2 separate regions of the Homo sapiens genome follow, and region 1 is linked to region 2. Evidence: fine-mapped expression QTL. Tissue or cell type: lung. Region 2 holds a variant in brackets; the other region holds the start of a gene. All regions are shown on one strand. Distances are from middle to middle.

The links. PIP is the estimated chance that this variant, and not a neighbour inherited with it, causes the effect.
Region 1: it holds the start of MYO7B-AS1, and the variant in region 2 is fine-mapped to the expression of MYO7B-AS1 in lung (TOPMed, PIP above 0.99).

What each region holds. Positions count from the first base shown.
Region 1 is chr2:127,629,743-127,632,496 of GRCh38, forward strand. It overlaps MYO7B-AS1 (MYO7B antisense RNA 1), which reads right to left and starts at 1,042. Exons shown (of 3, transcript XR_923314.3): 1 at 633-1,042. MYO7B (myosin VIIB) reads left to right here. Exons shown (of 48, transcript NM_001393586.1): 35 at 1-84; 36 at 1,036-1,166; 37 at 1,464-1,621; 38 at 1,858-2,011; 39 at 2,504-2,659.
Region 2 is chr2:127,590,725-127,593,478 of GRCh38, forward strand. It overlaps MYO7B (myosin VIIB), which reads left to right. Exons shown (of 48, transcript NM_001393586.1): 17 at 2,070-2,222. Among named protein-coding and RNA genes, the nearest start is that of MYO7B-AS1, 39 kb to the right of the region's middle. The variant A/T (reference allele first, on the strand shown) is at 1,699.

The DNA.
Region 1 (2,754 bases), 39 kb after region 2:
GACAGGACAGGCAAGACGGGGCTGGTGCCCATGGCCTGCCTCTACACCATCCCCACGGTCACTAAGCCCTCGGCACAGCTGCTGGTAACTGGCACGCTCCCCTGTCCTCAGCCTGGGTACCCGAGGTCAGGGTGGAGCAGTCCTGGGATGCCTAGTTGGGAGGCCTAGCTCAGGGCCTGCAGCCCACCTAGCAGAGGCCAGGAGGGCCACCCGGGCAGCCCCCACCATTCCTGCGGCAAGGTGTGTGTGCAGTGCCAGCCCAGCTCTTGGTACTTAGTAGGTCCTCAATAAATGGGTGTTCCCTCCCTCTTCCATCATGGGGGTGTCCGGGGGACAAACCCAATCTTTCTCTGCCTCATTTACACTCTGACCCAGGGGGACTCAAGTCTCTCCCTGCACAAGGGAACCACCCACCCCAGCCCCCAAGACCAGCCTCTCCGGAGGCAGGAATGGCAGGCATTGCAACATGTACATACTGAGTGCTGAGTATGTGCCCTGTGCCTGTGGTACGAGTCTGGGCATAATAGCAGCTCCACCCTCAGGGCAGACATTTGGGCAGATAATGACACATGGATGGCAACTGTGCAAAGTGCCACCAAGGAGAGGAACAAATAATAGGGTGGGGAACTTACCCTGTCTGGGAAGGCATCCCCGAGGGAGGGACATTTGTGCTGAGGCCTGAAGTTGGTGGCAGACTAGGCAGGCAGGGCTGGGGTGAGAGGTGGCCCCATGGAGAAGGGGAGCTGGGGAGCTGGGGGTCTGAGAAACCCAGAGTGCCGTGGCCCCCAGAACGGGTGATGTGGGTGCCACAGCCATTGGCACTCACCCTCCCAAGGGAAAGGAGACAGGCACCAAGAGGTAGAGTCATGGTCCTGGGTCACACGGCAGGTGACAGGGGTGTGGGTAAGCCCTGGCCTGTTCAGCCCTGGGCCTGACCCCTCCCAAGTCACTGAGGCTGCCAGGCCGGGAGGAGCCTGCAGGAAGGGCCTCATGGGCGGTGGCTCCTGGGCACCCACAGGCCTGTGCCCCCTTCAGAGCTTGCTTGCCATGTCACCAGAGAAGAGGAAGCTGGCGGCTCAGGAGGGGCAGTTCACAGAGCCACGTCCTGAGGAGCCACCCAAGGAAAAGCTGCACACCCTGGAGGAGTTCTCCTATGAGTTCTTCAGGTGCCCCCCAGCCCCGCTCCGCCTCATTGCACCCCCACCTCCCAGCCCCACCTCACCTCATTGCACCCCCTGCTCCCAGCCCCGCTCCACCTCATTGCACCCACTGAGAGCTGCAGAGAGGCCACGCCACCCATGTGGAGCCTGCCTGGCCTTCCCAGGCCAGGGGAGTCAGGAGGGGCTTGCGGCAGGGTGGGGTGCTCTGGCCCTCCCACAGCCACTCAGGGGTGTCAGAGGACAGAGAAGCGTGGGACAGAGAAGGCCACAGGGCAGGCCTCACACCAGCCTCTAACCTCACAGGGCTCCAGAGAAGGACATGGTGAGCATGGCCGTGCTGCCCCTGGCCCGTGCCCGTGGCCACCTGTGGGCCTATTCCTGCGAGCCGCTGCGACAGCCGCTGCTCAAGCGAGTCCACGCCAACGTCGACCTCTGGGACATCGCCTGCCAGATCTTTGTCGATATCCTTCCCCACCAGCCTGCCTGCACCTCGTCAATGCCAGGGCAGAGGCACCCAGCACATCCTGGCCCTACAGCTGTGCTCTAGGGCAGGAGAGCCCAGGAGATCTGAGAAACCTGGAGTGGCGGGACAGAGCCCACACATGGCTCACCGCAGGGCCGGGGTCGGGGTCAGCGTCTATCCCCAGTCTGTGTCAGCGTGGGGCTGCCCCAGCACTGTGCTCCTTGACAGCCACACCCATCCTCCGGTACATGGGCGACTACCCTTCTCGGCAGGCCTGGCCCACCCTGGAGCTCACCGACCAGATCTTCACACTGGCCCTGCAGCACCCGGCCCTCCAGGACGAGGTCTACTGCCAGATCCTGAAGCAGCTGACGCACAACTCCAACAGGTCTGCTGGGGCGGCGGCCAGCCCACGCGGGCACCCTCAGTCCTCATCCCGGCCCCTGAGGCCAGACCGAGGCTCAGAGAGGACACCGCAGCTGGTGGCGGCAGAACCCCTGCCTGGGCTCCTGCCTCAGCAGTGGGAAGGGTTGGGCCCTTGGTCTGCTCTGCTGATGTCCTAGGGGTGGTCAGAGCAGGAGAGGATGGCCCTGCCCACTCCCACCCTCTGTGTGTGACCTGGCAGGCCATGACCTCTCTGAGCTTCAGTGTCGTCTTCCACAAAATGGGTGCAATGCCCACCCGCCCCCATCTTGAGGGTGTGAAAGCCCGTGGCATCGGGCAGCCTGGCACAGCTGGCATGGTGCAGCCTGGCAGGTGCCCTCCCCCTCGGGCCCTCTAGACCCCAGGCAGCTCTCACATCCGTCCCTGCTCCCCAAGGTGCCTGCCTGGCCAGGGCCCCCTGAGGGGCCTTTCCCGGCTGACAAGTGCTACCCTTCAGGCACAGCGAAGAGCGGGGCTGGCAGCTGCTGTGGCTGTGCACGGGCCTCTTCCCGCCCAGCAAGGGGCTGCTGCCCCATGCCCAGAAGTTTATAGACACTCGGAGGGGGAAGCTGCTGGCCCCCGACTGCAGCCGCCGAATCCAGAAGGTCCTGAGGTGAGCCCAGTGCCTCCAGCCCCCAGCATTGGCCCTGGGCCCGCAGACCTGGGATGCTGTGGGGCCTGGCCAGCCTTCCAGGAGCTCATGGTCCT
Region 2 (2,754 bases):
CCCACAACGGAGTCCCTGCTCCATTGGGTGGGGAGTCCCACCCAGAGGCCGCATATGCAGGGATTCCCCAAACTAGGAGACATCAGCTGAAACAATATAAAATGGTTTTATCCCCATAAGGGAATAAAAATATTACATGAAATTAAATGCTTTTTGGAAAGAATAAAACTATGTGAAATCGAGTTTGATCTGGGTGCAGTAGCTCACGCTTGTAATCCCAGCACTTTGGGAGGCTGAGGCGGGAGGATTGCTTGAGGCAAGCCTGGGCAACATAGTAAGACCTTATCTCTGCAAAAAAATTTAAAAGTATAAAAATTAGCTAGGTATGGTGGTATGTGCCTGTAGTCTCAGCTACTCAGGAGGCTGAGGGAGGAGGATCACTTGAGCCCAGGAGGTCAAGGCTGCAGTGAACTATGATCACACCACTGCACTTCAGCCTGGGTGACAGAGCAAGACCTGTCTCTAAAAAAATAAAATGAGGCTTGCCTTATGAAATCTAGGTTGCATCTTCCTTGAAGGCAAAATAGGCAGATGTGAGATAACCTATCTTGTTCCTTAACTGCTGGGAGAAGTAGCTGGGCTCCCAGAGACCCTTGGCTCGTTCAGACCCTGCCTACCTTGGGAGCTGGGAGTTGCAGGACAGGCAGGCAGGCCTGAGGCTGAAGCTCGGGGGTTAAGAGTGCCTCTGGCTGGGATATCTCTCATTGGTGGCTGCTCAGGGTTCAAACCCAGGCTCAGCCCCTTAGAAGCAAAACCCTATGCCTCAGCACCTCATCTTTAAGTTGGAGCCAATCACCCCCACCAGGTAGGAATGTTGTAAAGATTCAGTGAGAAACACCAGGCCCATAGGAAATCGTCAGTGAAGCGCAGCTAAACACTTACCCGAGGCTAAGCTCAGTGTGGCCTGGACCCCACCAGCAGTTGGCGCTGTGACCCTGCAGGTGGGGTAACAGTGCCTGCTGGTGGGTTTGCCACATCAGAGGGCGTTCCCCAGGGTCCCTCAGAGACTCCTGGCTTGTAGGTGGAGAGGGGCTCTCTAGAATCCAAGCCATGGCAGAGTCTTGGAACCCCTGCTGAAGCCTGACACCCCAGGGAAGGACATCATGCCATTTCTCTGCCAGTCACACTCGCCTCAAAGCAAAAGACGGCTCAGCTCCCTGGGGCCAAAGGCCCTCCACTCCTCCGCCCCAGCCACTCCAGGTCTCACTCTGACCTCCATCTCCAGGGAGGGAGAGACTAAGTTGATTAGGATATTTTCTGCCTCTGAGTAGATTTATTTTTTCATTTAACTATTGTGAGGGAGGCACCATGAAACTGCAAGTGCCTGCGGGGCAGCTTTCCACCCCGACCTATGTAGGCAAGGGGCGCTTAAAAACATTTTAAACTGGGCCAGGCGCGGTGGCTCAGGCCTGTAATCCCAGCACTCTGGGACGCCAAGGCGGGCGGATCATTTGAGCTCAGGAGTTGGAGACCAGCCTGGCCAACATGGTGAAACTCCGTCTTTAACTAAAAATACAAAACTTACCCGGGCGTGGTGCTACACGCCTGTAATCCCAGCTACTCGGGAGGCTGAGGCAGGAGAATCGCTTGCACCCAGGAGGCAGAGGTTGCAGTGAGCAGAGATCGTGCCACTGCACTCCAGCCTGAGCGACAGAACGAGACTCCATCTCAAAAAAATAAATAAATAAAATTTAAAAA[A/T]TTTTTTTAAAAAAAGCATTTTAAACTGGGCATGTGCAGAGGACGTTTACATTCACAGCGCTTCGAGTAGTTGACAGTGATGGGAGTGCTGTGTTTCTGTGGGTGCCACAGTTTCCATGCTATCGACTTTTATCTCCTTGACAACATTACGGGTTTTTCAACTACTTGCACTACTCTCTTCAAAATGTAGCCTTACTGAAGTCGCATTTGTTTAGTTCTTCCATCTCTGGAGGACAGTGGGGGTGGGCGGGGCGGGGGGCTGGACACACTGACCTCTGGCTGTGGGCCCGTGCCCGGTGGTGGGGTGCCGGGAAGGGGGGTGGCTGGAAAGTGGGGCTTGCGCTGGGTCAGCGCCCGGTGTCCGCCCACAGCTGTTCGACCGGGAGCTGTGCCTGCGGCAGCTGCGATACTCGGGCATGATGGAGACCGTGCACATCCGCAAGTCGGGCTTCCCCATCCGCTACACGTTCGAGGAGTTCTCGCAGAGGTTCGGCGTGTTGCTGCCCAACGCCATGCGGATGCAGGTCAGCGCCCCTCGGGGACGGTCACCTCTGGCCATCCGCGGCCTTCCCCTCGGCCTTGGCACCTCCAGCCCCCAGTACCGAGGGGGTCTCCCGCTGCCCTCCCCGGCCCCAGCCTTGCGATGAGCCCTGTCCTTCCTCCCTCTCTCCTCCTCCCACCCTACCCTCTCCCTCTCCCAGCGCCGCGGAAGTGAGGGGGCTTTCCCTGGGGTCTGGGAGAGCTGGCGGCCGCAGCGGTTCCTTCTGGAACATGTCTGTAGTTGTACAGCAGACACGTTCTCTCCTACCGCGTCAGGGAGCCGAGGTGTGGCTAGAAAGCTACTGGGGCCCGAGGTTCTTCCTGTCCTGTCTGGAACCCTCAGCCATCCTGAGGCTGGGCCTGGCCTGGGCCGAGTCCCACAGCACATGGAGGCCCCGGGCCCCGAGTTCCCTCCTCACCCCAACCCCTATTCGAGGTTCCCGTTGTGCCTGTGCCTGGGCGGGGGTGGGCGGCAGCCCCTGATGGGGGAGCCTGTGGGAGAAGGAGGGAGACACC